Homo sapiens: one gene and its partners. The protein of the gene in region 3 purifies or fractionates together with the protein of the main gene of each other region. This does not show direct contact. Each region holds a gene or a part of one and is shown on either strand. Other genes may lie near its edges. The genes, in order: TLN1, PDCD4, SLC26A11, BOD1L1, MAP1B, VPS39 and U2SURP.

Evidence for each region.
Region 1: the proteins of SLC26A11 (region 3) and TLN1 purify together in Homo sapiens (affinity purification with mass spectrometry; one large-scale study listed by BioGRID and IntAct). This does not show direct contact.
Region 2: the proteins of SLC26A11 (region 3) and PDCD4 purify together in Homo sapiens (affinity purification with mass spectrometry; one large-scale study listed by BioGRID and IntAct). This does not show direct contact.
Region 4: the proteins of SLC26A11 (region 3) and BOD1L1 purify together in Homo sapiens (affinity purification with mass spectrometry; one large-scale study listed by BioGRID and IntAct). This does not show direct contact.
Region 5: the proteins of SLC26A11 (region 3) and MAP1B purify together in Homo sapiens (affinity purification with mass spectrometry; one large-scale study listed by BioGRID and IntAct). This does not show direct contact.
Region 6: the proteins of SLC26A11 (region 3) and VPS39 purify together in Homo sapiens (affinity purification with mass spectrometry; one large-scale study listed by BioGRID and IntAct). This does not show direct contact.
Region 7: the proteins of SLC26A11 (region 3) and U2SURP purify together in Homo sapiens (affinity purification with mass spectrometry; one large-scale study listed by BioGRID and IntAct). This does not show direct contact.

Annotation. Positions count from the first base shown.
Region 1 is NC_000009.12:35,704,674-35,709,131, reverse strand, and holds part of TLN1 (talin-1), read left to right. Parts: intron 1-647; coding exon 648-791; intron 792-1,239; coding exon 1,240-1,401; intron 1,402-1,643; coding exon 1,644-1,784; intron 1,785-1,878; coding exon 1,879-2,060; intron 2,061-2,231; coding exon 2,232-2,364; intron 2,365-2,580; coding exon 2,581-2,682; intron 2,683-2,765; coding exon 2,766-2,936; intron 2,937-3,020; coding exon 3,021-3,170; intron 3,171-3,280; coding exon 3,281-3,382; intron 3,383-3,461; coding exon 3,462-3,581; intron 3,582-4,316; coding exon 4,317-4,458. UniProt on the Homo sapiens protein: High molecular weight cytoskeletal protein concentrated at regions of cell-matrix and cell-cell contacts. Involved in connections of major cytoskeletal structures to the plasma membrane.
Region 2 is NC_000010.11:110,874,719-110,879,176, forward strand, and holds part of PDCD4 (programmed cell death protein 4), read left to right. Parts: intron 1-1,247; 5' UTR 1,248-1,309; coding exon 1,310-1,352; intron 1,353-1,951; exon of another isoform or gene 1,952-2,025; coding exon of another isoform or gene 2,026-2,035; intron 2,036-4,458. UniProt on the Homo sapiens protein: Inhibits translation initiation and cap-dependent translation. May excert its function by hindering the interaction between EIF4A1 and EIF4G. Inhibits the helicase activity of EIF4A. Modulates the activation of JUN kinase.
Region 3 is NC_000017.11:80,250,972-80,254,503, reverse strand, and holds the end of SLC26A11 (sodium-independent sulfate anion transporter), read right to left. Parts: intron 3,176-3,532; coding exon 3,103-3,175; intron 1,880-3,102; coding exon 1,788-1,879; 3' UTR 1,004-1,787; downstream 1-1,003. UniProt on the Homo sapiens protein: Sodium-independent anion exchanger mediating bicarbonate, chloride, sulfate and oxalate transport.
Region 4 is NC_000004.12:13,571,811-13,576,268, forward strand, and holds part of BOD1L1 (biorientation of chromosomes in cell division protein 1-like 1), read right to left. Parts: intron 1,033-4,458; coding exon of another isoform or gene 892-1,032; intron 1-891. UniProt on the Homo sapiens protein: Component of the fork protection machinery required to protect stalled/damaged replication forks from uncontrolled DNA2-dependent resection.
Region 5 is NC_000005.10:72,200,517-72,204,974, reverse strand, and holds part of MAP1B (microtubule-associated protein 1B), read right to left. Parts: intron 1,413-4,458; coding exon 1,174-1,412; intron 1-1,173. UniProt on the Homo sapiens protein: Facilitates tyrosination of alpha-tubulin in neuronal microtubules. Phosphorylated MAP1B is required for proper microtubule dynamics and plays a role in the cytoskeletal changes that accompany neuronal differentiation and neurite extension.
Region 6 is NC_000015.10:42,201,277-42,205,734, reverse strand, and holds part of VPS39 (vam6/Vps39-like protein), read left to right. Parts: intron 1-4,458. UniProt on the Homo sapiens protein: Regulator of TGF-beta/activin signaling, inhibiting SMAD3- and activating SMAD2-dependent transcription.
Region 7 is NC_000003.12:143,007,701-143,012,158, reverse strand, and holds part of U2SURP (U2 snRNP-associated SURP motif-containing protein), read right to left. Parts: intron 1,345-4,458; coding exon 1,300-1,344; intron 1-1,299.

The DNA of each region.
Region 1 (4,458 bases), on a different chromosome or scaffold from region 3:
GTAGAGACAGGGTTTCACTAAACCTCTTTGTTGTTTGTTTGGTTTTTTTCCCCCCACCTTCTGAAAATGCATAGAGGAAAAAGCAAAGCTACTGTGTATTGATTGAAGTATGAATCAAACATTAGGATGTTCTTTCCATCATAAAAATGGCTTTTTAACCCCTCCCTTCCTTTCCAAATATCTGACGCATGGAGGTGCTATAAATGTGAATTAGCCTAATAACCTTCATCAGTTTTGAACTGTCTTTAAAAGAGGCTTTGCTTGTGTGCACAAAGGTGTGTATTTATATATGGCTCTCAAACGTTTTACTGCTACTTACAGTAAGCCATACTTTTCACTCTAAGACCCAACATACACAAACATATCTAAATAGAGATTGGATAAAAACCCTTGCTATGTAGTTTTCCTTTTTATTAACTTTTTTAATCTTCTGAAATGCTTGAATATACTTAATGAAAACAGGAGAGTATTTTTTTTCTTCTTTATAGTGTAACCATTGTTTGCTAATGTATCTCCACTCATGGAGAACTCTGGAAAATAAGCCCTATTCTCTAAACTTACCTCTGCTCTCTTTTGTCCCTACTATCACTATTCATTTCCCACCTGCAATCTTTATTCCTCACCCCCACCCCCTTTTCTCTTCCCAGGCTGCATATCTGGTTGGTGTCTCTGACCCCAATAGCCAAGCTGGACAGCAAGGGCTAGTGGAGCCCACACAGTTTGCCCGTGCAAACCAGGCAATTCAGATGGCCTGCCAGAGTTTGGGAGAGCCTGGCTGTACCCAGGCCCAGGTAACTCAAGGGAACAGGGACCACAGGCGAGTCTGGGAAAGGGCAGACCGACCCCGTGGAGTAGAGGGAGGTGAGGCATGTGGGAAAGAGGGCAGGGACCCATCTCTGACCTTGCACACACAGCTTCTTTTTGGGTAACTGTCTTTTTCTGCCATGGGTCTCATCATTTATCAGTTACTGCTAAATTCACAACTTCTCTGTAGATGTTCGAGCTTACTCTCCCACATGCCCTCTTATGGTTTCTCCATTAGTATGTCTTTCCTCTCCCATGCCCAGTTCATCTTTGGGTATCTCTGTCTCCTAGATCTTGACTTTTCAGGTGACTCTGTTATTCCTGTTTTGACTCCTCAGGGTATTGCTCTCCATCCCCTGACCCTAAAATGGCTCCTCCTTGGGTATGTACACCTCCTTCCTGCCCTCATCGTGGCTCTTCCATGTGTCTCCTCAGGTGCTCTCTGCAGCCACCATTGTGGCTAAACACACCTCTGCACTGTGTAACAGCTGTCGCCTGGCTTCTGCCCGTACCACCAATCCTACTGCCAAGCGCCAGTTTGTACAGTCAGCCAAGGAGGTGGCCAACAGCACAGCTAATCTTGTCAAGACCATCAAGGTTCCCATTGCTTGAATTCCCAGCCTCTCCCTGACCTGTCCTATCTTCTCCCCCGAGTCCCCCAGTTATTCTCTGAAGCCTTCTACCAAATCCCCTCTGCCTGAGCCCAAGCTCTTTCTATTCAGACTGACCACCTAGCCTCTCCCCAAATCCTGTAAGTCCCAGGAAGGAGACCTGGACTTCACTTCCTATACCCCCTATGACTGCATCCCAAGTCCTGAGAGCCTCTCTGTCACTTCTAGGCGCTAGATGGGGCCTTCACAGAGGAGAACCGTGCCCAGTGCCGAGCAGCAACAGCCCCTCTGCTGGAGGCTGTGGACAATCTGAGTGCCTTTGCGTCCAACCCTGAGTTCTCCAGCATTCCTGCCCAGATCAGCCCTGAGGTGAGGCGATGTGAAGGGGGAACTGATGGGCCAGCTTATCACCTCATCTTCCAGGGACTCCTGAGACTTACCTTCCTGCCTCCCCTCTCCCCAGGGTCGGGCTGCCATGGAGCCCATTGTGATCTCTGCCAAGACAATGTTAGAGAGTGCCGGGGGACTCATCCAGACAGCCCGGGCCCTCGCAGTCAATCCCCGGGACCCCCCGAGCTGGTCGGTGCTGGCCGGCCACTCCCGTACTGTCTCAGACTCCATCAAGAAGCTAATTACAAGCATGAGGTATTGAGGGATGGGGAACCAGTGTGGCTGGGGGGCATACATTGTGGCAGAATGGAGGATGGGCACTTGAGTGCAATGAGATGGGATGGTGTTGGGAGGATACAGGGGAAGGATAGGCTGGCCTTGCAGTAGGGGATGTTCTTGGTGTTGGAGCCCATGATGTGTCTGCAGGGACAAGGCTCCAGGGCAGCTGGAGTGTGAAACGGCCATTGCAGCTCTGAACAGTTGTCTACGGGACCTAGACCAGGCTTCCCTCGCTGCAGTCAGCCAGCAGCTTGCTCCCCGTGAGGGAATCTCTCAAGAGGTGAGAGGGAGAGGGTTATATGGAAAGATGTGTCTAGGAAGAGAAATATCAGACTCAAAGAAGCTGGGGGATCAAGGAGTGGCTTCTTAGGGACATCAAAGGCTGGGATGTGCGAAGGAGGGTTAGGGTATTTGGTATGGACAGAAGAGCAGTTCTTTGTAGCCAGAGGGTCCTATTGCAGGTCACCATCAGGGCTAATGTCCACTTCCTCCCCAGGCCTTGCACACTCAGATGCTCACTGCAGTCCAAGAGATCTCCCATCTCATTGAGCCGCTGGCCAATGCTGCCCGGGCTGAAGCCTCCCAGCTGGGACACAAGGTACCTATGGAGACTCATGGGAAGTCCCAGGGAGTAGGGTGAGAGAGAGGGGACCTGACCCCTAGTCCAACCCCTTGCCTCAGGTGTCCCAGATGGCGCAGTACTTTGAGCCGCTCACCCTGGCTGCAGTGGGTGCTGCCTCCAAGACCCTGAGCCACCCGCAGCAGATGGCACTCCTGGACCAGACTAAAACATTGGCAGAGTCTGCCCTGCAGTTGCTATACACTGCCAAGGAGGCTGGTGGTAACCCAAAGGTATTGAGGGTTGGGAGGGAGGAGCTGTTACTAGCAGGAGGCTGGAGAAACAGGAACAACAGAGCTCCTCTCCTCTCCCCACAGCAAGCAGCTCACACCCAGGAAGCCCTGGAGGAGGCTGTGCAGATGATGACCGAGGCCGTAGAGGACCTGACAACAACCCTCAACGAGGCAGCCAGTGCTGCTGGGGTCGTGGGTGGCATGGTGGACTCCATCACCCAGGCCATCAACCAGGTTAGAGTCTTGGGGTGCCTTTGGACACTGAGGCTACCCTGGGCCAGAGCCTCCAAGCACAGTGGCAGAGACCCTAACAGTCTTTCCCTTTCCCTATCCTCCCCCCTCAGCTAGATGAAGGACCAATGGGTGAACCAGAAGGTTCCTTCGTGGATTACCAAACAACTATGGTGCGGACAGCCAAGGCCATTGCAGTGACCGTTCAGGAGATGGTGAGTTTGGGCGAGTCCCAGAGGACTGCCCTCGGAGAGCTGACTTTGGATATAACTTCACTCGTTCCATTATCACCAGGTTACCAAGTCAAACACCAGCCCAGAGGAGCTGGGCCCTCTTGCTAACCAGCTGACCAGTGACTATGGCCGTCTGGCCTCGGAGGCCAAGCCTGCAGCGGTGGCTGCTGAAAATGAAGAGGTAAACGTGGAGGCAACTCTGCCCTGCCCCCTGCCCCTTGTTCCTGATGTGTCAGTGTCTAGGGCTGTCCCACCCCCACCCTCTCTGGTCTTTCATAGAAAGGGGAACAGCCTCAGGGCCACTCTGCTGAAGACTAGTGAGGCTCTGGGTAGGGACAGAGGATCAAAGCCTTCAGTCACAGGTACAAAGGAAACAGCTCAGAATCTGGAGCCTTCCCGGGCCTGCCTTTCTGGCTTCTGCCGACCCTCATCTGGGCCTACAGCTGCTTCTCTGTTGTGCTGCCAGTCCATGTTCTTGTTCTTTCTTGTTGCAAACTCATGAAGCTCTTCCTTACCTAAGCCTCTAGCTTTCCAAGAAAGCAAGTAATTGGATCTTAGCAGGACACATGTAATGCCCATCCTTAAAACCCTCCATAACCCCATACAGGCCACATGGTAATCCACGGCCCTCTGATTCCCACATTCAAGCATAAAGTGCTCCTCCCCTTCTCCCCACTGTGCTTAACACAATCCTCACCACTTAGTGCCTGCGTGCTACTATTTTCTGTGTGTAGGAGGTGACCTTCTGCCTAAAGGATATGCAACCGGAAACGTCCTTGTGCTGGGAACCTTCTCTCTCTGCTTCTTTAGTCTACAATGCATGTTTTTTTCTATGTCCTTAGTGACTTTTCCAAGCACAGTGAAGGTACCCTGAGTGCCCCTTGTAAAATCCATCTGTCTTTCCCTTGGCTCACAGATAGGTTCCCATATCAAACACCGGGTACAGGAGCTGGGCCATGGCTGTGCCGCTCTGGTCACCAAGGCAGGCGCCCTGCAGTGCAGCCCCAGTGATGCCTACACCAAGAAGGAGCTCATAGAGTGTGCCCGGAGAGTCTCTG
Region 2 (4,458 bases), on a different chromosome or scaffold from region 3:
GTTTTTGTTTCACAAAATAATACCGTTTTCTGAAGAAAAGGGCTATAAACTTATGTTAGCAAATAGTAGTACATAATGAGGAATTTAAAAGTCAGTTTCACCTTTGAGTCCCAGGAGGCTCTGTATATATCATTGTTATCCTAAAATGACATCTAACAGTAGGTTAAGTTATATAGGAAAAAATGTGCTTTTCTGTAATTAATTTATTAGGCATTTTCACTAATTTGTGCATTTTATATCTCTGAAGAGCACACTGCTAGCAACCTGATTGTAAATGACCAGAAGGACTTATATCCAACCTATGTGACTTAAACATACACTTAAGTACTCTAAACCACTATTTAAAAAATACTTCTAGAGAGATTCTGAAATCTTAATTTGGTTGCACTTTCTGGTAATATATTTTTTGAAAACTATTTTGATATTTCTTTCATATAACATTATTGGATCTGTATCACTAAGTTAATTGTCTAAAAGGTAACTGATTTCATCAAACCTTCCAGTATTAATAATTTTTAAGCCATTTTGAAACTGAGGCCTAAAATACTGAAATGCTTATGTCGTTGTACTTACTCCTTTCTGAAATGATCAGATTTTTAAAAAATGGATTTCTCATATAAATAATATTATCAAAAAAGGATTTCTCATATAAATAATATTATCAAAAAAGCTGATTTTAAAAGTTTCTCCCAAAGTCTTATTCTAGTAATTATAGAGACCTAGGTAATGAGTGGCAGATATATCTGCCTTTCAGATATGCCGTAATGTGAAAAATAACACAGTCATGTGATATTCTTTATTAACTAAAACTGTGTTGTTTTTATTTTGGAGTAGTTCTCATAATTCATTGGTAGGGAACTATCCAGTATTTATATTCCTATGTATGTATATCAGATTAATTTTGAGGCTTGGTATTCCTAAAAGATTTGGATGTGTGTATTTCTTTAACTTGACGTAAACATGTATCACAAACATATCTTTTAATTCCAATTAAAGGGGTGCTTTGGCACATGCTGAAATCTGGGATTTTTTTTTTTGACTTTGATAAATTTATCAAAAAGATTGGAACCAAATGTTAATTAGGGTAAGTTGTCTTTGAAAGTAAAGTGAACTGTTTTATTTAATGGAATTGTGTGTTTTTTGTTGTTGTCGTTTGTTTTTACAGTGTGCTTAAGTAAGTTTAATTCAGCTTAATTACATCAGTTTAAAAGATCTTGAAGCTTTCTTTTTTTCTTTTAAAAAAACAGATTCTGAAGGAAGATTTCCATTAGGTAATTTGTTTAATCAGTGCAAGCGAAATTAAGGGAAAATGGATGTAGAAAATGAGCAGATACTGAATGTAAACCCTGCAGGTAAGTAAGGATATCCTTTTTTCTTTTTTTCTTCGTTTTGAGACAGGATCTTGCTCTGTCACCCAGGCTGGAGTGCAGTGGTGTGATCATGGCTCACTGCAGTTTTGACTTTCCTGGGCTTAAGAGATCCTCCCCTATCTCAGCCTCCTCAGCAGCTGGGACAACAGGTGTGTGCCACCACACCAGGCTAATTTTTTATTTTTTGTAGAGATAGGATTTCACTATGTTGCCTAGGCTGAAATATCTTGAAGCTTGACTATGTTGTGAGGAAGCTTCAGACCATTCCATATTTTATAAAAACATGATAGAAAAACTATCTTTAAATACTCTTTTATTCATGCTGTAAGAAAACAGGCTATATTATTTTTAAAGTCAAGTTTGTGATTTTTATTTTCATGGAAATTCATTACATGTCCTATTTTTCTGCCTATCCTTTCACATTCCACATATTCCTATTCTCTGTTATATAGTACAGAATAGAGAAGAATAGTGAGCCTGCTTATTTTCACATGGGCTAGTTAGTGATTTCTGTAATATAAACTTACTGGTATCTTTGGTATCTTTCCTAACAAATAATTTTTATATTCTAAATTACCTAGGGTATTTTCCCTAATTCTCCATGGTGCTTCAATAGCATGTTATTATCATAAAAATGAACAGTTTTGTGGAATAGATGACCAAATGTGAGTAACTCAAGATAATTTAAAATGTATTTATAGTTTTAAAAATAATCTCCCAAAAAGTTAATTAGAATTGTGTAATATCTGAATAGTGAGAACAGTTCATATTGGTATACTTTGGATAATTCTTTGTCTTATAATTTTATTAATATTGAAAGCTATTTTCTGTCATTTTAAGTGTATTTCGTAACTAAATACTACATCTTTCTTTCCTCAGTGACTTAACTCACTATTGTTTACAATGTACATAGTTTTCTTTGATCTGAACAAACATGTTGAATTTGAAGCTTCTTTACCATTGTTTATTTACAGATCTTTTTAAAGTATGGTAAAAAATTGAAAAAAATTTATGTAATTAATGATCATTTCTGTGCTGCTGTATACAATAGCTGTATGAGTATGCTTTAGGGTTATAAATGGATAATATGTACCTACTTAATTGAGATGGGGATGGTAATACAGTTTAGAATATATTTTACATATAGGTAATTGCTTCTTTTCTGCACTGTCCAGTATGGTGACCACTAGCTACATGTGGTTATTACTCCTGGGCTCAAGTGATCCTCCCTCTTCAGCCTCCTCAGTAGCTGGATTACAGGCGTGTGCACCACTGTGCTTAGCCACATGTGTTTGTTGAGTACTTGAAATGTGGCTACTCTGAGTTGAGATGAAGGTCAACTATCTCAATAATTTGTTATATTGCTTGCATGTTGAGATGATATGGTTATATTAGATTAAATAAAATATATTTAAATTAATTTCACCTGTTTTTACTTTTTAATGTGGCTACTGGAAAATTTAAAATTTCTTATATGGCTTGCATTCTATTTCTATTAGAAATAGAAACACAGCTTTAAAATGTGTACTTTTTGTTTCCTAACTACAATAAGACCTAGTTCTAACCCTGTTCTTGGTGCTTGTGTCCAGCACTGCTTTAAAATAAAAGACTTGTTCTTCAATATTTGAATAGGCCTAAGATAGACCCTCTTTGTAGTAAATTCTTCACATAGCAAATAGTCCAAGTCACACTCTTACTCTTTTACTTGGAGGAAGTAGGTTATTCTGACCTTCAGTTTTTTCATGTATAAAATTGGGATATAAATACCCTCTGTATAGATTTATAATTAGGATTTAGTGAGATATTGTATATGTGTGTTAAGTCTGTGAAGCACATACTAGGTATGTAATACATGAAAGTGTGGTAATGTTATTCTAATTATGCCACTCATTGGACACCAGTAATTGAAAATGTGATTTTCTGGTGCTGTGGTCATATACAATTGGAGTGGTTACTATTGAGATATCAGAATTCAGAAAGAGGGAATTAGTACACAGTAGGAAACAATTTTGAAGTCAATCACATTCTGTACTCAGCTTATCATTTTAATTTTGGTTTTCTTAAAGTCAGCTCAATAGGGGTTATGGAACTCCAACAGTTAGGTGAGTATGAGTAACAAAATATAAAGCAATTAATACAAACATGGGTTAAAAATGATAAGGTCAAATATATAAATTATACTGAGAGAATGTTTACTGCTGCAGAGACACAAACATACTTGAAAGGATGTTAAAATTGTTGAAGAAAAGAAAACTCGATTATGGGAAATAGATGTATTTAAATTGAATACTCCAAGGGACAGTTTAAGACATTTTATTATAGTTCTGACTCCTGTGTCTTCTGGACCAGTTTTGTGGTTCACCTTAATGGCACAATGATGAAAGCACTATGTTACAGGTAGATGTTTAATGTTTTTCTCAACCATCCACTCTTACACGAAAATGTCATCTAATTTATGTGATCCTGATCTTTCTGTCCCCTTCCACTTAATCATTTTTGTTTATCTCTCTTTACATTCACGCCCTTGTTCGTCTCTTTAGCTGTCAATACTCTGCTGTATTCTAGTTTTGTATTTTCTGTAGTTATATGGGATTAAAAATGTGGGTTTGAATTCTAGCCATAATCCTTTCTAGATATGTAACTTCTTGTGAAACACATTCCTTCTGTAAAATGAGGATAAACAGTTTCTTTCTAGAGCTCTTGAAGCTTATAGACCACATATGTAAAGTGCCTTAGCTAATAGGTACCAGGTAGTGTGGAATCTAATAGGTACCAGGTAGTGTGGAACCTGGTATCTAATAGATGACAATAGTAATGGTAATGATGAAAGAAACAGTACTACGACTACTTCCACTAAGACTATAATTACTACTGATGGTTATGATGATGTCCCAAACACACCATCCTAACACCGGCTTCTTACCAGTTTGAAAACTTTTAAGGCATTGTTTGACTTCTCTTTAATCCTAGATACATTCTGCTTAAAAGTCCTTCATTATTTTCTTTAAAAGTGTAACATTATTATTTATCCCACAGTTACTACCCTTGCTCTTTACCAGTTAGCTTGTGACTGAATTACTGAAGCATT
Region 3 (3,532 bases):
TGGTCCCAGCCACACCAGAGGCTGAGGCAAGAGGATTGCTTGAGCCCAGGAGTTGAAGACCAGCCTGGGGAACACAGTGAGAAGAAAGGGGTGGAGGGAGGAAGAAAGGGAGAACGGGAAGAAAAAAATGAAAGGAAGGAAGAAAGGAAAGAAAAACGGAAGGAAGAAAGAAAAGGAAGGGAGCAAGGGAGGAAAGGAAGGAAGGAAGGAAAGAAAGGAAGGAAGGAAGGAAAGGAAGGGAAGGAAGGAAGGAAAGGAAGGAAGGAAAATGGGAGGAGGCAAGGGACCTGGAAGAGTGACGCGGATGAAGGACACTCCAATGTCCACTCCCGTGTCCAGTGGGGAGCCCCGCAGCCAGCAGCCCTGGTTACAGAGGCCCTCCCCTTGCTGCGCTGACATTGGCCGGGACTGCCCGGGCAGAACGGGCAGAACGAGGCTCAGTAGGGCAGGCCACATTCTTCTTGAAGAAAGTGCAGGGAGAACACACCTCTGAGGCTGCCACAGGCCTCCAGGGATTTACCCCCAGACTCAATCAAAGCATTCATAAAAATACAAACATGCAGGCAGTCCTCACCTGCTCAGGCCGCCGTCACAGATCACCCCAGGCTGCGGGGCCTAGCACAGAGATTCATCTTCTCCCAGTTTTGGAGGCTGGGGTCCTCATGAGGCCTTTCTTCCTGGTGGGCGCATGGCCTGGTTTTGCCGTGTCCTCTCATGGAGTTCCCTGGGGTGTGAGGGTGCAGAGAACGAGCTCTCTGGCGTCTCTTCTCACGAGGACACTAAAGCTATCGGTTCAGGGCCCACCTTTATGACCTTCATTAAACCTAGTTACCCCCTAAAAGCCCTGTTTCCAAACGCAGTCACATAGAGGGCAAGGGCTTCAACTGACACATCTAAAGGAGGCACGATCCCGTCTCTAACCCACGCACACGTTGAACAGAGGGCTCGGTAAGTCAATTATGATGCATATATAGACCAAAATACCACGCAGACATTAAAAATCTTGTATTCTAATGCTATTTATTATCACAATAAATAATTCACTGCAAATGACTGCATGAAAAATGTGGGTTCCAGAGCACCATGTATAAAATGATCCCATTTATGTAGAACTGTAAACATACATCCACACACTGACGGACAGGTACATATGCATGTTTGGGGAGGGGTCTGGAATGATCACCCAAGTGGACAGGGTGAGGGGTGGTTTCCTGTATTTTTTACAATAAGCATTTATGACTTTTACAAAATCACCAAAGCTATCACTTTTTCCATTTAGAAAACACAAAATTATTTTTAAATAGAGACTTGACGTCATTTGACACACCTTGGTTTTCTCTCGGAGAGCACAGATGCCGCAGACAAGAGGAGCGGACCCGCCTCCCAGACTCCTGCCTGCCCCGTCCCTCCCCCGCAGGTGGCACTGGTGAGCCGGGAAGGTGCTGCCAGCCCCAGGATGCCTCGCACAGCCCGGGCTGGAAACCCCTGCCCCTGCTTCCTCGCACAGTCTGTCATTCTAGAAGGCTCTCTCCAAACCACTCTTCCAAAGAGGGTCATGCCAGGGAACAGCAGCGAGGTCATTTTCCAGTCATCCCACAGGAAGCCAGTGAGCCCCACTCCCACTGCCGTGGACCTCCAGGCCTGGCTTCCTTCTCTTCCCTGGGTTACCTGCTCAGGGGTTTCTCAGCCAGGCCAGCATGTCTATCAGGCGGCATCCAGCATCCAATCACAGTGACAAGAACCTTCCGGAACACCCTGCAAACTGTGGATGCCCACGGGTGGCCCCATTATGCCTTGAGCAGGGCAACCTTTTGGTCCAGAATGGAGTCTTCTCTGATGTTGTAGGGCTGGGTCCCTGGCTCCTGCCTCAGGTGCTTCTCTGCAGAAAATACAATAAATGTTTCAAGCACTAAAAGCTCAGAAGTGAGGATGGGTCAGTTCACAGGAAGGGATTAAGGAGGGCCTTCCAGAGTCCTGGAAGGTGTGCAGGAAGGAGCTGTGGGCCACCCAGGCCAGTGTCACTAACTCCATGAGGGTCTCACCTGAGTCTCTGTAAGCGTATTTTTCAGGTGACTAACGGCCCTTTCTTACTGCTCCAGGGTACCCTCCCATCCCACGGCCAGGCCACATTCTGCTTATCCACCTCCAGTGCACTGCATCTGAGCTGATTCTACAACAACATGGGTGAATCTCCCTGACGTCACATTGAGCCAAGGAAGTCAGTACAACATCCGCCACCCCTCACTCTCACGGAGCTGACCCAGCTTCAGCTGTGACCTCAGTGGAAGAGGAAGAGGCCTAGCACTGGGGCCTGGGACCCTCTGGCCACTGCTGTGTGGCCTGGGGTGGATGCTCTGCATCTCTGGCCCATCCTCTTGTTGACACCTGCTGCGGCTCAGACCTCCTGCGATTGCTGTCTCAAGGGTCAGCGCCCACCCTGCTCCTGTCCCTCCCGTACCTTCTGTCCCGGGGCTTCTGGATCTCCTGACCCGGCCCTGCTCTGTCCTGATCCCCCGGGATGTGGACTTTCGGCTGGAAGGACATCCTTCCAACCTTCTGCATGAAAAATGTGGGTTCCAGAGCACCAGGTATGAAATGGTCCCATTTACGTAAAACCGCAAACATATATCCACATCCTGACAGGCAGGTACATATGCGTGTTTAGGGGAGGGGTATGGAGTGATCACCAAAGTGGACTGGGGTGGAGGTGGTTTCCTGTTTTTTTTGTTTTTTTTTTTTTTGAGACAGAGTCTCGCTCTCTCACCCAGGCTGGAGTGCAGTGGCACAATCTCGGCTCAGTACAACCTCTGCCTCCTGGGTTCAAGCGATTCTCCTGCTTCAGCCTCCCGAATAGCTGGGACTAGAGGTGCATGCCACCACACCCAGCTAATTTTTGTATTTTTAGTACTGATGAGGTTTTACCATGTTGGCCAGGCTGGTCTCGAACTCCTGACCTCAGGTGATCCACCTGCCTCGGCCTCCCAAAGTGCTGGGATTACAGGCATGAGCCACTGTGCCCAGCTGGTTTCCCATATTTTTTACAATAAGCATTTATGATTTTTACAAAATCACCAAAGCCACAGGATGTCTGACTGTGCCCACCTGCTTCTTCCAGGGTAGAGAAGTACTGGAACCCCTTCAGGTCAGCGGACAGCAGGACACGGAGAACGGGGACCTGAGAGACAGACAGACTTTAGCCAGGGCAGGGATGTTCCTCTGTAGCACACGGGTCGGCAGCCTGGTAGACCTGCCATCTCAGAGTCTCCCGGAGAGGTATGGCTTCACCTCCATACCAGTGAATGGTGAGAAGAAACGCAGCCCCAGGGGAATGCTGTCAGAGGAAGATTTTTTTTTTTTTAATTTTTTGTTTTTTGAGACAGGGTCTTGCTCATTGCTCAGGCTGGAGTGCAGTGGCACGATCATGGCTCACTGCAGCCTCAACCTCCCAGACTCAAGTGATCCTCCCACCTCAGCCTCCTGAGTAGCTACAGGTGCACGCCACCACGTCCAGCTATTTTTTCCTATTTTTTTG
Region 4 (4,458 bases), on a different chromosome or scaffold from region 3:
TCCCTCACATATAAAATAAGAGTAACTATTACAATTCACTCACTGAGGGTTAAATGAGAGCATGTATGTGAAACTGCCTGGCACTATAGTTTGCTTTCGTTTCTAGAATGTGCGGAAAACAGCACATACATACAAGTATGCTGTGAAGATGAAAATGTGGTAAGAGGTCAAAACAGTTTTTGTGTACAGTGAAGAGTCTTTTATTTTTGAATATGATAATGTATAGAAAGTATGACAAATTCCTATCTCAAGAAAGAAACCTAGAGCTCAGAGGGGTAAATAAAAGGAATATACCAAACCAATGCTATGTGGCATCTCAAGTGCCCAGTACTGACCAGAAGTGCAGCAAGAAGAGATGAAAATGGGCTGAAGCGGGACGGAAAGGATCTGACTTACTAGGGGTGCTGGTGGTGAGGACACTCCTCACTGGCTCAAGCAAAGGCAAGAAAGGAAGGCTCAGGACCACCTCTGGGAAGCAGTAAGACCAGTAAGGCTGCAGTGAAAGGTGTAAGCTGGCAGGGGCCGTGCCTGAAAGAGGAAGCTTTATCACCTCATCACCTCTCCAATGCTCTAGCTAAAACAGAAATGATTCTGGGCTGTTAAATGCTTTACCACACTGCCTTGCCTTTGGTCTTGGTGGATGGGAGAAGGCAGATAAGGCTCACAGGTGTCAAGGACAAGCCTGTGTGGCAGTCCACTGCGGCAAGGCCAGACTGGTGAGGCCACACAGACACCTTCTGCAGCCCTTCCTGTTCTTCTTGGAAACCAATGATCCCCAAAAACAGTTATTTGGTGAGACAAAATCTTAAAGGAAATTAGGAAGAAAGCATTATTGTACCAAAAATAGTCTTAGGGGGTTAAAAATGGCTTGAAGTGTAAGCAGGGACTTACCTTCCTAATGGGGGAGAGTTACTAACTTTTTCGCTGGTAGGTAACTTCTCTTTTGCTAATTTTTGGCGATTTCTAGGAGAAACTGTGTCTGGGCTGCCAAGTTTGGATGTTGCACGTGCAGATGGCTTGCTATGTTGCTTTCTGAAACAGATTATAGAAACACTGGGCAATGGTAGCACTGAATACTCCAGTCCCTGGAACTCTGTAGGAAGTATGAGGCTCCTTGTGGGCAAGTCAGAACAATAGGAACTAAAATCAGAAAAATGGTTGGTTTTCCTGACCACTGCTGATAAGTCGATCTTAATGTCATCTACAACTACCTCTGCTTGTGTGACACTATCTTTGTTCTTACTGTGCATGATATTTTATTGTGATTTAGAAAAAAGATGTATCTGCGAAAAATAGAAAATATACTGGCCGACAAAATAAAGATTACAAAAGAGCTCATCAGGGTAGAATAAAGGGCCAAGATTAACGAAAGTACAATTCACAAGGCTAAGTGTTAAGGCCCAAGTAGTCAACTGCACAAGAATCAGATAAGGAATTCTGATTCCAGTAAAAACTCTGAAAAAGGAACTTGTTTAGCTGGTGTATTTTTCAATTTGAGGCTCAGTAATGAGGATGCACACTGAAGAACAATATCCAGAAAATAAGGTAGAACAGTCCTCTTCTGGATTCATTAGACCACACTTGGTATACAGAGTTTGCTTCTATCTATCTGTCTGTCTGTCTGTCTGTCTGTCTATCTATCTATCTATCTATCTATCTATCTTTCTTTCTTTCTTTCTTTCTTTTGAGAAAGAGCCTCTATCTATCTATCTTTCTTTCTTTCTTTCTTTTGAGAAAGAGCCTCGCTCTGTCACCCAGGCTGGAGTGCAGTGGTACAATCTCTTCTCACTGCAACCTCCACTTCCCGGGTTCAAGCAATTCTCCTGCCTCAGCTGCCCAAGTAGCTAGGATTACAGGAGTCTGCCACAATGCTCGGCTACTTTTTGTACTTTTAGTAGAGATGAGGTTTCACCATATTGGCAAGGCTGGTCTTGAACACCCGGCCTTAAGTGAGCCACCAGCCTTGGACTCCCAAAGTGCTGGGATTACAGGCGTGAGCCACTGTGCGTGGCCTCTTTTATATTTTATTAATTTAATTTAATTTTTTCTTTTAAGAGGGTCTTGCTATGTTGCTTAGGCTGGTCTCGAACTCCCAGCCTCAAGCAATCTTCCTGCCTCAGCCTCCTGAGTAGCTGGGATTACAGGCATGAGCCACTGCGCCCAGCTGCACATTTGCTTCTAAAAGAGGATAAAGGTAACTGATGAGCACAAACAGGGATGATGAAGGGGCTCAATAAGCAAGCAGAGAAGACCTGGAAGCTGCCCTCAAATATGTAAGGCAAAATTAGACAGAAGGTTCTGAAAGTCGAACTAGAATCAAGAGTAGAAGCCACAGGGAGGCCGGCTTCTACTGAACACAAGTCAGAGAATGCTAAGGAGGATGTGGCTTTCCCTGCCACTGAGGTCCATGCAAAAGCAGGAAGACCCTTTCAGAGGAGCTGCAGGTGCAGTGACTCAGGCACTGACTGGCTATTGGTACTACATGACCACTGAGAGCCCACCCAACTCAGACAATTTGTAAAATTATGAAGACACCAGAGCCCTGGGACTGATCAACCAATGCCAAGGAATCTAAACTAGAGAGAAAACAACTCATTTGTAAATCAAAAGTTTATATTATAAAGTGCATGAAGGAAGAGCTTTGATAATCCAGGTGATTACAGAACCATATAAATCAAATAAGATTTATTTTTAAAGAATTTATAAAAGGCAAATCTGAGAGCAATTTCTAGACACTCACTCGAAGATGGCTAGAAGGCCTATGGAACTTTCTCTGAGTTGAGCCCTACTTTCCACAACTGTTTTAAAGGGAAGCAGTAATTCTGGTGGGATGGATGCTATACCCAAATGCATGGGTGTTGGGCTCCAGCACCCTCACCCTCTCCTAGCAGCAGCAATTTGGATTCTGTGACTTCTTTTCTATTTATGTGAGCTGCTCCACCTAAAAAAACAAATATGAGACCACCTTATAACTTTAGCCGTGTGAGCTTCTAGAGTCCTTTGGCTCTAAAATCTGATTCTTTGAGAAATCAAACCATGGCACAAATGGCTAATACTGTGTTAAGTCTGGAGGAATTAGAAACAGATTGATTTTAAGTTTTTGTTTTTTTTTGTTTTTTTTTTTTGAGACGGGGAGTCTCACTCTGTCACCCAGGCTGGAGTGCAATGGCGTGATCTCGGCTCACTGCAACCTCCACCTCCCGAGTTCAAGCGATTCTCCTGCCTCAGCTTCCCAAGTAGCTGGGATTACTGGCACGTGCCACCACACCCAGCTAATTTTTTATATTTTTAGTAGAGATGGGGTTTCACCATATTGGCCAGGCTGGTCTCGAACTCCTGACCTCGTGATCCGCCGGCCTCAGCCTCCCAAAGTGCTGGGATTACAGGTGTGAGCCACTGTGCCCAGCCCCGATTTTAGTTCTTTATGTAAACACAAGATACTATTATATTATGCTGTTAGTGTTATTTTTGAAATAAATCTTCCTGAACTTTTTGATCAATCTTGAATAATGAAATTAAACAAGATGATACCAAGATTAATAGCTTGTAAATCACATTAATTAAAAATTAAAAAAATATATATTTTTTCAGAGACAGAGTCTCACTGTCACCCAGGCTAGAGTGCAGTGGTGCGATCACAGCTCACTGCAGCCTCAAGCTCCTGGGCTCAAGCGATCCTCCCATCTCAGCCTCCCAAGTAGCCGGGACTACAGGTGCATGCCACCATGCCCAGCTAATTTTCTAATTTTTTTGTAGAGATGGGGTCTCCCTGTGTTGCCCAGGCTGGTCTCATAAACTCCTGGGCTCAAGTGATCCTCCCATCTTGGTCTCCCAAAGTGTTGGGATTACAAGCATGAGCTACCGTGCTCAGCCTGGAAAATATTCATGTTTGGGAAAGTGATTAACGGTTAGGATGAGACAATACAGTTATGTACCATTTCTCAAATGTGCCATGGGGAAAGGAACACTGGATGATGTGAACAGGTATAATGATATAGGCCAACAACAGAAAAGTGGTATCAGCAAATAATGCTTGTTTAAACAAAGTTCAACAGGCTTCTTTCCTTTAGGAGTTTGCCAAACCCTTTTTTTTTTTTTTTTTTTTTTTTTTGAGATGGAGTCTTGCTCTAACACCAGGCTGGAGTGCAGTGGAGCCATCTCAGCTCACTGCAACCTCCGCCTCCCACGGTTAAGCAATTCCCCTGCCTCAGCCTCCCGAGTAGCTGGGATTACAGGCACTCACCACCATGCCTGGCTGATTTTTGTATTTTAGTAGAGACGGGGTTTCACCATGTTGACCAGGATGGTCTCGATCTCCGGACCTCGTGATTCGCCTGCCTTGGCCTCCCAAAGTGCTGGGATTACAGGCGTGAGTCACCGCGCCCAGCCCTGGAGTTTGCCAAACCCTTAATATTTTAATGAACATGTAACTGAGGAAGGAGAGAGAATTCAATGACA
Region 5 (4,458 bases), on a different chromosome or scaffold from region 3:
AAAACTTTTCTATTTTCCTCAAGAAATGCAAAGGATTTTTCAATGTATATTTTCCAGGAACCAGAATAAAGCTGCAAAGAAAAGCTATTGTTTCTAAGGGAAACTGAAGGCTGGAACCAAAAAGCAATTAATCAGTTTCTCAGTTCTTTACTGTTAAGAGAAGTGCTTCCGTTAGGGTACAATTTTTTGTATTTCCTTTAACACAACTGGTAAGTTTTGCATAAAAGATATTGCATATTTAATCCAAGGATTTTATCGCGCACTTCAAAGCCCTCAAAAGCCCACTCATTGTGAGTAACTAACATTTTGTCCTGAGAACAAAGATCTGCACCTTTACTTTATGTGTGTGGTTGGGGATGGAGGTATGGGGTGGGTAAGTAATGTCCTGAATAGTATAAATTCCATCTAGCATTCAGTAGGGAGCCACTGGGTGCCTCTCATTAGATTTCATATGATTAAATAACAAGTAATTCTATATAATATGATACAAGCACAATTTACTAGGTAATTTTGTACAGAACCACAAATAAAACTTGATAAGCAAAGATCACAGCTGAATTAATAATAGCTGGTTCTAAGAATCATTTAAGGCCAGGAGTTCGAGACCAGCCTGGGCAACATAGGGAGACCCTGTCATTAAATAAATAAGGGATGGTTTGTGGTCAGGCATGATGTTTGGGAGTTGGGAGTGTCCTGTGAGGGACTATATTCAGCAATGCTCCTGCTGTGGAATTTCACATGGAGAGCTGTTTTTCTAAATGGCCATATTCCTAGCCGCAGTCTACTCATAAAACACAAAGGAAGAAAGGCAATTCCTCAGGAGCTCTCATATGGAAATATGACCGCTTTGATTCACACACACAAGACTCTTGGCATACTGGAGGAAGGGCAATTAATCTTAGGCCCATTTTGCAGATAAATGGTTTCTGCTTTAGTTAAGGTGTCTTTCCTCCAAGGCCGTGGTTGGTGGTGGTGCCAAGAATATTATTTCAGACTACCTACTGTGTGTTAAACTGACTTTGTTCTCAGGATATTTCGTGTGTGACAGACACAGGAGGCACCTCATGTGGATCCACGATCAGCCACATGAGGTGCCTCTTTAAACATGGTTCCTTCCCATTGCCTCTGGACACAGCTCAATCGGCAGTGCAGACACTGTCGAGGAGTTCTCACCTGCATGTTGCTGCCCCACTGAGCCTTTCCTTCCAACAAAGCGTCCAGGACAGCCCGGCTGGGCTCCTCAGCAGCAGGGTCATTCCCACTCACCACGTAGTAGGAAGACCGCACTCTCTTGAAAAATTCCACATCAACATTCTTACTATTGCTGTGGTTAGGAATGTAGCACAGGTCCAAATACACAGGGAGGCCTGGGGGCACAGCAGATGACTTGGTCGTCTTGGTAGTTCCTGGTCCTTGGGTAAATAAACAAAGACAAAGCAAGGTCATAGCAAGGTGAAGAGACCATACATCCAGCACATGTTCCCCACTCAATCACACCTTCCCTATTCAATCACAAGTAGGTCCTCTGAGACATGCAAAGTGGTGACAGCATTTCCATCTCCCTGGTAATCTGTCAAGGGCATTTACGCTAGCAATGTGACAAAACATAACATGGTTGTTTACCACCTCAATAGGAGAAATGAAGAATGGGATAGTTTCCCTTTGTGGACAACCAATATTAGGAAGCAAGAAGAGTTTGAAGGCCTTTCCCAAGATGGCACTAGATATAATACTCCTCCTAAAGAAGTTGTTAATGTGTTTCTTTATTTGATAAGTGATCTAAGAAGTAGATTTTAAAAGTCAAAAGAAAACGTCTGTATTTGGCAAAACATAGCTAAGTGATCTTAGTGCTCTATTTTAGGGTCTCATTGATAGCAATTTTGTCCACAGCTGGATATTATACCCTAACATTCTACCTAGCAAATAGTTTTGATCTTAACCCCATATGATTTCCAAGGCCCTCAGCACCTCCATCTCATTCATAAACTGATGAAACACCATATTCTCTCCTTAGCACAGTATTCTGAAAAGTGATACTTCTTTCCCTAGACAAGGCTGGATGCCAAACTTGGGCAAAGGAAGGTTCAGAAAGACTAGGCTTTCTCTAGCTAATCAGGACATATCAGACTGCAACCAAAACCCCCAGTCAAATCACAAAGGTCTGGGAAAACTAACTTGTTCCAGTTAGGAAGTTTAAAGCTTTTGAAATGTTAATAGAACTAGCATTTTGAGGCAGTGGTTCTTCAGCCTGACTATATAATCAGAATCACCTCGGATGCTTAATACTGACACCCAGGCCTCATTCTCTAGAGTCTGACTTAAGTGGGCTTGGGTTGGGGCCTGGAACTACTGTCTTTTAAAAGCACCCCAGGCGATTCTAATATGCAGCTGGTTTCATTGCTGTAAAGCCAATTAAAACACCAGCTAGATTTTACATGCTTAATCCTCTTTCTCCATAGGATATTTAAAGACTATCATCCCAGATTGAAAACCACCAGCTAATTCTATCAACTGTACAGTTTTATTTTTAGAGAGGTTAGGGAGTGGTGAGAATCAGCCAAAGTAATAATTGGATAAGCTAATTCATTCTATGAATAGATCAATAGTTTATTTTAATGAATCTGAGCCGAAAGCCCTCAAAATATCCAAAGAATTCCTAAAGAATTCTGACTTGTACTAGAAGTTTGTGAGTTACAGTTCTTCCAGTAATTAAACATGTCTGCCAATTTCGCCCTCTACTCTAAATCACTACCATCAACATCAAATGAATATTGCTCACAGAAGCACAAACTGACAGAACTGCCCAGGTTTGCTTTAAAAGTCAATTAGTACTGCAACTTTGCCTTTTTAGACATCTAAAAGCATCTCCAAAATAAATGAAAATTAACTCATTTTCACTTATTACTTTGCCTTTAAATTACCTCTTTAAATGTCCAAAAAAAGTTTTTTTAAAAATTGTGTGGGCTAGGATGTATATGTTCTGGCAAATTTGCAGTTGGTTTTATCTGTTTAAATGGATTTCATGTTTTCTCCTAAGTGCAGGTCAGTTGTCAACTCTTTCAGATGAAAGGGTTAATTATCTGGTGGTTTTTCATTCATTTTAAACATGAAAAAATTCCGATTATTTTCTATGTGCATGTAGAAAGGCCAAATGTGCTGAGAACTGAGCCTTAAAATTGATACTCCATATTGTTTAAAGTAAAAATTTGCAGTTTTAACAAATGTATCCTAAAGTGTACTTAATTGGAGAGCTCCAAAGATTACTCTATCAGATTTTCCCTAATAAATCAGGGCAATGTTATTTAAATTATGTTGTGCCTTACATGTTTGGGTCCATTTACATTACTTTGTGAATTGTGATCTAAAAATCTCTGAATAATTACCTAAAGCAAATAAAATGTATGAATGCCAATCCTTGTGATTGATGTGAAGCAACAAAATGAAGCAGTACTGCCATAGACCAGTTCCATCAAAAGCCCAGGTCATTGCTGAGAACCTGATAAATCTGAGAATCATGACCAAAAACATGAATGATCAAAAATCAGGGATACCTGCTCTTGCCAAGTGGCATTTCATTTGCTTATTTATTTATTTTTGAGAGACAGGGTCTTGCTCTGTCACCCAGGCTTGGCATGCAGTGATACATACAATTCTGGCTCACTGCAGCCTTGATCTCTTGGGCTGAAGTGATCCTCCTGCCTCAGCCTCCCAAGTAGCTAAGACTATAAGCACGTGCCACCACACCCAGCTAATTAAAAAACATTTTTTTTTTTTTGTGGAGACAGGGTCTTGCTATGTTGCACAGGCTGGTCTCAACTTCCTGGGCTGAAGCTAACCTTCCATCTCAGCCTCCCAAAGTGCTGAAATTACAGGCATGAGGCCATGCATCTAGCTTCCCAGTGGAATTTTAATCTGAAATAGCATTGAGTCTCTACTAATGAGGCCATGGGGTAAGAGAAGGGTAAGAGCAGAGCCATCAATGTTTTTCTCTCAATTTTCACCGGACACTCACTGGTCAACTGAAATTATAGTATTTTTTGGCTGATAAGAAAATGGAACACTGCCTTTAATGAGGATTTATCTCCAACCTGGTGATGTTTTAAATAAAAATGTAAACATTTTTAATTTAAAAAAAATTTTTTTTAAAAAAGGACTCTAAATCTTGGGTCTAGACTGGTTGATCCAGTCTTGATGTGAAACCTCTGGTTCTCCTTAGGCCTTTGGGAGCTCCTGGCCTGTGTTACCCTGCTGGATTCTGAGGCCAGTATGGCTGAAACCAGTCTTCCAGAAGCACCTGAAAGACACATCCTTGGTTCTGAAGATTTAGAACAGGGCTGTAGTTGCTGTGTTCGAAAACGGCACAAAATCAGGAATCCCAGTGATGAATCACAGCTGCTTTGAACCATACACTGAGCTATTTCCAAGCCTTAAGGCCACACTGGACTGAGATATATACCT
Region 6 (4,458 bases), on a different chromosome or scaffold from region 3:
TTTTCAGTTTTTTGTCTACCAGGTAGAGTGAAACTTTGAAAACCTAAATCTGATTCCATCCTCTACTCAAAACCCTCTCATGGTATCACATCACAACTAGAATAAGTTCCAAAGTTTTCACCCTGTCTGGCAACATCTGACATGATCAGGCCCTGATTTCTTCCCTGTCTTCTGTGTACTTACCTCTCACTCCTTTCTGGTACCAGTCCCACACAGCCTTCTTTGTTCCATCAATGCACAAAGCACATACCCACCTCAGGGCCTTTACATTTGCTGTTTCCTTGGCCTGGCACTCACTTGCCTTTGTATATATGGTTCATTCCTCATTTCACTCAGTTCTCTGCTGAAATGTCACCCAAATCAGCAAAACCTTCCCTGTGTATCCTATATAAAAGAGATTGCCACATCCACCAATGTGCTGTTTTCTTAGCCTTATCTTCTAATCATGGGTCACCATCTACTGTTATTTTATATATTTAATTATTATTGCCTCTCTCACTCCACATTAGAATATAAGTTCCCTCAGGGCAGTATCTTTGTTTTCTGCATTGCTATATCTGCAGTACCTAAAACATTTCCTGACTCAATGGGTATTCATTAAATATATATTTAATGAATAATGTTAATATGAATAGTAATAGCTTGCAGTTGTTAAATGCTAATCTGTATTAGGCTTTTATAAAATAAGACTCCATTTTACAGAAGAAAGACCTAAGGCTTAGAAAATTTAAGAAATTTTTCCAAGGTCACATGTCCTGTAAATCATGTCTGCTTCTAGAGCCTGGTTCTCAAACTTGAATGTATATTCAAAGCCTGTAAAAAATGCAGACTTCACATGTATATATGAGTATCTGTATGTCTATATATACATACATACCTATATTTTCCAGAGAAACAATGGAAAGATAAGTCAAAAATTACTAAAATGATGCCCATAGCAGAAGGGAGAAGAGAGGATAAAATGGACAATGATAGAAACTAGACTTTTCGTCGTTTTAGCTTTGGAACTACATGAATGTTTCATAAAAACAAATAAAATTTAATTTAATTTTATTTTATTTTATTTTATTTCATTATTATTTTTTGAGACTGAGTCTCGCTCTGTCGCCCAGGCTGAAGTGCAGTGGTGCAATCTCAGCTCACTGCAACCTCTGCCTCCCAGGTACAAGCCACTGTCGTGCCTCAGCCTCCCGAGTAGTTAGGATTACTGCCACCCACCACCATACCTGGCTTATTTTTGTAGTTTTAGTAGAGACGGGGTTTCGTCATGTTGGCCAGGCTGGTCTCAAACGCCTGACCTGAGGTGATCCGCCCACCTCGGCCTCCCAAAGTGCTGGGATTACAGGCGTGAGCCACTTTGCCCAGCCAACAAGATTAAATTTTAAAATGTAAATTTCAGGGTACCACTTCAAAGCCATTGAATCTGAATCTCCATGTGCAGGGCCCAGGAATGTGCATTTTTAATAAGTCCAGGTGATTCTAATGCAGCTAATTGGGGGCTTATGCCCAGATGAGAAGTACTGTTATTTGCCATGTTACCCAACGAAGGGAAGTGACTACTATCTTACTTATCTTTGTGGTCCCTGCAGTGGCCAGCATTGGGCCAGAAATGGAATTTATTACATGAAGTTGGACTGCATTGCACTGTTGGAAGGAGCTCCATTAGGGTAATTATGAGCAATAGGGCCTAGCCCTCCTTCTCAGGAGGAATTAAGTCCAACCTTGTGGCTCAGGGTTAGGCCGTCAGGAGTTTTTTAGGGCTGATACTGCTTTGCTTATGTGTGCGTTTTGTGTTTGCTTAGTATGTCTCACTTTCTGTTGTGTGTTACTGTATTGAGTCTCAGAAGGCACTGTCCATCCCATGCTGCGCGTGCTCTGCAGGCTTGTCATCCTCTGTGTTGTGCATGCACAGCTTTGTTAAATAACGTGTCCTAGAGAGTGGAGGACCCAACATGGGACAGGTCCTCTGGCTAATGGCACATGTAATCAATCAGGTTGATTTAAAAGTTTACAGAGAATTTAATCCATCGGATTGATTCCCTTTTATGACCAGTAGAATAGACATTTTATTTTTTTAATTAATTTTTTTTTTGGAGGCAGAATTTCACACTTGTCACCCAGGCTGGAGTGCAATGGCGCACAATCTCCACTCACTGCAACCTCCGCCGCCAGTGTTCAAGTGGTTCTCCTGTCTCAGCCTCCCTAGTACCTGGGATTACAGGTGCTCACCAGCACACCTGGCTAATTTTTTTTTTTTTTTTGAGACAGAGTCCTGCCCCGTCACCCAGGCTGGAGTGCAGTGGTACGATCTCAGCTCACTGCAGCCTCTCCCTCCGGGGTTCATGCAGTTCTCTTGCCTCAGTCTCCTGAGTAGCTGGGATTACAGGCACACACACCACCATGCCTGGCTAATTTTTTTTGTATTTTTAGTAGAGATGGGTTTCCACTGTGTTGGCCAGACTGGTCTTGAACTCCTGACCTCAGGTGATCTGCCCGCCTTGGCCTTCCAAAGTGCTGGGATTACAGGCATGAGCCAACCACACTCGGCCTAATTTTTATATTTTTTAGTAGAGACGGGGTTTCACCATGTTGGCCAGGCTAGTCTCAAACTCCTGACCTCCAGTGATTCGCCCACTTCGGCCTCCGTGCCCGGCCCCTAGACATTTGACTTTTTAAAATGTTTTGTCATGTCTTAGTTTGGGTTCACAAGAAAAAAAAAAAGTAAATTAAAAAATCTATTGGCAAGAAACATTTCAATAAAAATGGAAAATAGACTCTTGAATGTCATGTTTAGGAATTTGACTTCATATTTTGGTAGTGTAGCTTCACAGGATTTTTTAAGCCCCAGTGTGACAGCATCAGAGATCTGCTCTAAGATAACTGACAGCAAATGCGAGAGAATGCATGGAGTGAATGAGACCAGTTGAAGGTGTCACAGGGGTCCCCAGAGAGACTCTATAGGAGGAGGCTGTCATGAGGTACCATTACAGGTAGAATTGATAGACCCTGGCCGACTTGGGAGGAAGCTGAGGCTATTAAAAAAGATAAAGAAAAGCAGGAACTGGCAGGGATTTGGGGGACAGAGTGGAGAGAGAAGGATGGGGAAGATGATGAACATTATGTTGGCCTTTTGTTTTGGTTGTAGATTTTTATGTATGTTATGAGTGGATTTTTAAAAAATTTCCACTTCATTTTATTTATATCTGAAATATCAGTGGGTGGCCTAAAAATCAACTTTAATATTGCTAAATTGCTTGATATCATGATATCTATAAAGTTCTAAATATAGTATCTTTTACAAAACAAATATTGCAAAATGAATTCTTTTATTTTTTCATGTTCTGCTGCAGCATAAATCTCCAGCCTTCATTAGAGCTGCTGTTATTTCTGATTTCAACATTTTTTTTGTGTGTGACCTGCCTTTCCTTTAAGACCCCAAATCAAAGAAAATAGAATCACTCTGTTTTTCTGGATGACTAAGAACATCATCCTGGAGAAATACTATTGATCCTTTGGATAAGGAATGTAGGTGCTGACCTGTTTTTATAAATATAACTACTGCCATTCAGACAACCTTTGGCTGACACCCATTTTTTTTGACATGGGTGCCTTAGTAAGTACATCACAGCATGTGGTTGGGAATCAAGACAAATTGGGGTTGGGATCCCAACTCTGCTGCTTGCCACATGTGTGACTCTGGAAAAGTTATATATTCCCTAGGCCTCAACTTCCTCATCTATAAAATGGGGATTTGAAAAAAGGACTTACTTCAAGGGATAGTTGTGAGGATTAGTGAAATAACAGATGCGTTTAGCATTTCCTGGAACACAATACATGCTCAATAAAAGTTATCTATTTGTACCATTATCCAAGATTTTATTTTACAGAGGTCAAGAATCAAGAGAGTTTATGAAAGGAATGAGTGACCTTTATGTTATCAAAAAGCTAAGGAAGTATCTGTACATGCTTACCTTCCTTGAATGATGTAATATGGGTCTGTCAGGGTAATTATTTAAACTCTTTCTGAGCCTCTTTTTACCTAGACCAGTGCCTCCCAAAATGTGGTCCTTGAACCACCAGCATCAGCATCATCTGGGAAGTTGTTAGAAATGAAAATTCCTGGGCCTACTTTTAAACCTACTAAATCAGATGCTCCGGGGTAGAGCCTAGCATTCTGTATTTTAACAAACTCTCAAATAATTGTGATACACTAAAGTTTAAGAACCACTAGCCTAGACCATCTTTTAAAATGTACAATTTGGCTGGGCACAGTCGCTCACCCCTGTAATCCCAACACTTTGGGAAGCTGAAGGGGCATTGCTTGCGGTCAAGAGTTGGAGACCAGATTGGGCAATATTGTGAGCCCTCATCTCTATAAACATTTTTTAAAAAATAGCTGAACGTGGTGGTGCATGCCTGTATTTCTCGCCACTCAGGAGGCTGAGGTGGGAGGATCAC
Region 7 (4,458 bases), on a different chromosome or scaffold from region 3:
AACTAGGAATAAGCCATGCCAGATATTGACAAATTTCATTGTAGATTATCAAAATATCACATCCCTTAATATCACCATTGATTTCACCAAAAAAGTTCTTAAGAACAGGGAAAGTTTTCAATAACTCTAACTCACAAGCTTGAATTTTATATTGGTAACAGTTGTTTTCCTTGAAGTAACAGGTTCGTTACCTTCATTTTCAAGAAAATGTCTGCCAAAATCCCCAAGTCTGATTCACCATAGTTTGCCTGTCAGTCACTCCCAAGTAAAACTGGTGTTTCATGAAAAAAGCAGCTAGTTTCATTTCTCAACTCAAACAAACATCACATTTTGGTAAGCATAAGTGTTATACGTACTTCTTATTTTATCACACAGAATATTAAGACGAACTACACAAAAGATGAAGACAATAGTAATAATTTTTACTGCTTGATGAAGTAGTAAAATAGTAGTAACTTTTACTGCATCATCAAGCAGTAAAAATTATTTCTAATTATGCTAGTTTTTTAAGTGAAATTATTGTGCCTGGTGGGGAAGAATATAATGACTACAAGTATACTCTGGTGTCACTGCCTTGATCTGTGCTGAAGTGCCAACAGTTTACCCACCAAATGCTTTTGTACCTCCAGCTACACTTGCATTAGTGCAAATGCCAAAATGGTGAAAAAGGCATAAATAATGCCTTAGTATTATTACAAAATAGTTTTGAATTCACAGACCCTTCTCAGAGATTCTCAGTGACTCCAGGGGTCTTCAGACTACACTTTGAACACTGCTGTAATAACATATATTAAAAAAATACTTATTGTAGTATTATCTATCCAAAATGTTACTTGAAAGCTTTAAACAAAAAATATATGCCCATCAACAAAGAAATAACAAACAACTGCACTTCCCCACCACAGAACATTATGATGCCTTAAGAAAGAACAGATTAGAGCTGTTAACAGTTTACCTGCAGGGATTTCCAACATATGTTTTGTGCGGTGAGAAAGGCATATGCATAATGCAATCCCATAGTCAAAGTATAAGTATAGATACGTTATGTATGTACAGATTTTTACACAATAAAAATCATAAGGAAATATACATACTAGGTTTCTAACATCGCTTCAGAGGGCTAAGTTATGCAAGCAGAACATAAAAAAAAAAAAGGAAGGCGCCTAGAAAAAAAAGAGTAAAAGAAAAAAGCACATACAATTGTATTTATTTGTCAAGTAAAATCATTGATGTAGGGATACATATGAGGAGAAGTTAAATTTTAAAGGAAAAAAGACAAAGATTGCCTTCTATACTCACATGTGCATCTGAAGATCCAGATGAATGAACATCTGATGATCTCGTCTACAAGTATCAAAAATAAAAGTCAATAATTTAAAATGTCTTATACTAACAAAACATGTCTCTCGTGTTATACAAACTTAAGAGTTTCCTAACTTCTGGCAATTTCTCCTCAGCTAATAAAACTGAGCAAAGGCAGTCTCTGACTTATGAAAAGATTGTGATACAAAGTAAATGTGTAAGTCATTTCTTTAAAATTCAGCCTGCATATTTCCAAAAATATAATAAACACTAGTGGGATATATATGAGGCAAAATTACCTCTTTATAGTATACACTGGAAACCTAACCACCATTTTTACACAGTTTTATGCAAAAGCTCTTCCTAATCATAGATGCATCGTTTACTGCCACAGCACTGCCCAGCAACTTCTTGGTCCACAGCACGAGAACTCTCTTTCTCTAATCACCCAAAGCCACATAAAGAAATCCACATATAAATCCTTGCTGTCTATTAAAAGGTACAAATTCTGCAAAGTTCCAGAAAATATTATCAAATCCCCAATAAGGCACCATTTACAACTCGTTTTAAGGGAGATGATTCGATAGCATGTCACAGGCTGCCTGGTGGCATGAGAAAGAGTTCATATAATATCTTCCAGTGATGTCAACTGTTAAAACTTCAACTTTTCTTAAGTGATCTACCTATCAGATTATACATGGTATGCAATAACTTGTTGCCACTACACATGTAAAGACAAAGATGACAAGCTGTAGGACGATTAACTAAATAATGTATGCTATCTTTCTGAAAGAAAGATTCTCCAAGAATTTTTACTTGGGGATCCAAAATATAACTGTCACTGAGCTGTTTTTATTTTTGAGGGTATACGGTAGTGAAATTTTACTTGTTTTTATTTATATATTTAAGTGTCAAATGTTCAAATGAAATCAAGAATATTGAGATCACAAATATCTCACCTGACCCCAACTCCCAGACAAGATGTCATATAAAGTACAAGATAAAATATTAGTTTAAGAGAAAAACTGAAGATTCATGTTATTTAAAAAAGAGCAAAGATCCATACAGTATTGTTTTATTTACATTGTCCAGACATAAGGCTAAGAACAGCTGGTAAGATTTTTACACTGAATCAATTTACTCCTCTGAACTCCACTGTATTGCGCATTAGCATAGGCAAAAATCAGCCCAGGACAACAGGACAACCAAGCACTGGGACCCCTCCCATCTCATTCTTTCTTTCATTTTTTTTTTTTCTTGAGACAGAGTCTTACTCTGTCTCCCAGGCTGGAGTACAGTGGCGCGACCTCGGCTCACTGCAGCCTCCGCCTCCCGGGTTCCAGTAATTCTCCTCCCTCAGCCTCCTGGGTAGCTAGGAGTACAGGCACGCACCACCATGCCTGGCTAATTTTTGTATTTTTAGTAGAGACGGAGTTTTACCACGTTGGCCAGGCTGGTCTCGAACTCCTGACCTCAGGTGATCTGTCCACCTCAGCCTCTGAAAGTGCTAGGATTACAGACATGAGCGACCGCACCCGGCCCCATCTCACTCTTTCTGTCCATGGTTTTTCTGTCCCCAACTTTTGTGTCCACCCTGATTTTCTTCTAGCGGCTAATCTTTCTTAAATGTCAAGGTGGTATAAAAGAAAATTTTTAGTATTTATTAACTATGAAACACACCCTGAAACATATCTTGAAATGCATAAATTTACAAATATCTAGAAATTTAAAAATCCAAAAGAATAAATAACTACTCTTACAAAAGAAAAACAAGTTCAGGCAAGAGGCTGAAGGGACTGAAAAAAATCAACTGCCTGGGCCAGGTGCAGTGGCTCACGCCTGTAATCCGAGCACTTTGGGAGGCCGAGGCGGGTGGATCAAGAGATGGAGACCATCCTGGCCAAACCTGGTGAAACCCCATCTCTACTAAAAATACAAAAATTAGCCAGGCGCCTGTAGTCCCAGCTACTCGCTGAGGCAGGAGAATGGTGTGAACCCGGGAGGCAGAGCTTGCAGTGAGCTGAGATCGCGCCACTGCACTACCGCCTAGGCGACAGAGACTCCATATCAAAAACAAACAATAGTAACAAAAAAAACTCAATTGCCTTCCAATACACCAGTATTAACTTGCTAAGCAACAAAAACATCCTAATCATAAAAGCAACAAAAAATATAAAAACATCTAGAAACCAATTTAAGAAATGTATATAACCCTTGTGAAGAAAACAAAAACTTCGAGAAAAATCCAGTTACTCAAGCCACCTTTTCAAAAGATTCATATTACTGGATGGGAAAATTCAATATTAAGATAATGTCAATGACACCTAAATTTCTTTACATATTTAATACAATTTCATTCAACCGCTCTAAATTCCAAAGGGAAATATTTGCAAGGGGGCAAAAGAATTGCCAAAACAATTCTAAAGTTCACCCAGAAAGAATAAGCATCCAAAAGAATAACTAAGAAAGCGCTACCCTTTCTGTAGTCTTTGATGCCACCACATCCAAATCATCATTTCTAGGATTTAAAAACAAAAGATACAAGAACCTAGGCATTCTGCCTATTTCCATATAGTTAACTCTTCCCTGACTCCAAGTCATCAAAAGATGAAGCTCTATAATCTTCAAGGATCTCACTTGCGTAACCATTCACCAAATTAAATAATCTCTAATACAAAAATAATCAGTTCAAAAGTAACAATTTTGTCAGCTTTCAAAATTACACAATTTGATAAATTTGCAAACAGAGCAGTAACAGCATAGTGTAGCACAATGCACCGGTGTAGGACAATGCACCAGCTGATTTCAGTTAGCTTAAGATGTCACTAATCACATTTACTGCAAACCAGACATTTTCCACTGATACATACCTACAGCTACATAGCATTCAGCACGGAACTTTAACAGTTCAAACAGCAGTTAACACAATTTTTAAAATAATCATCAACTTCTAAAGATAACAGTCAAGGTAAACAGTAAATATAGCACTACTTCAGAAGCTGAGCTTCTCCCTCTTCCTAACCTGGAACTGAACTGTATTCTTTGTCTTGAGTTTGGCTTTTTATTTTTAACTGAAGAACACAAACCAATGATGCCTAAAGATCTCCTGAAGTCGGCCGGGCGCGGTGGCTCACGCCTGTAATCTCAGCACTTTGG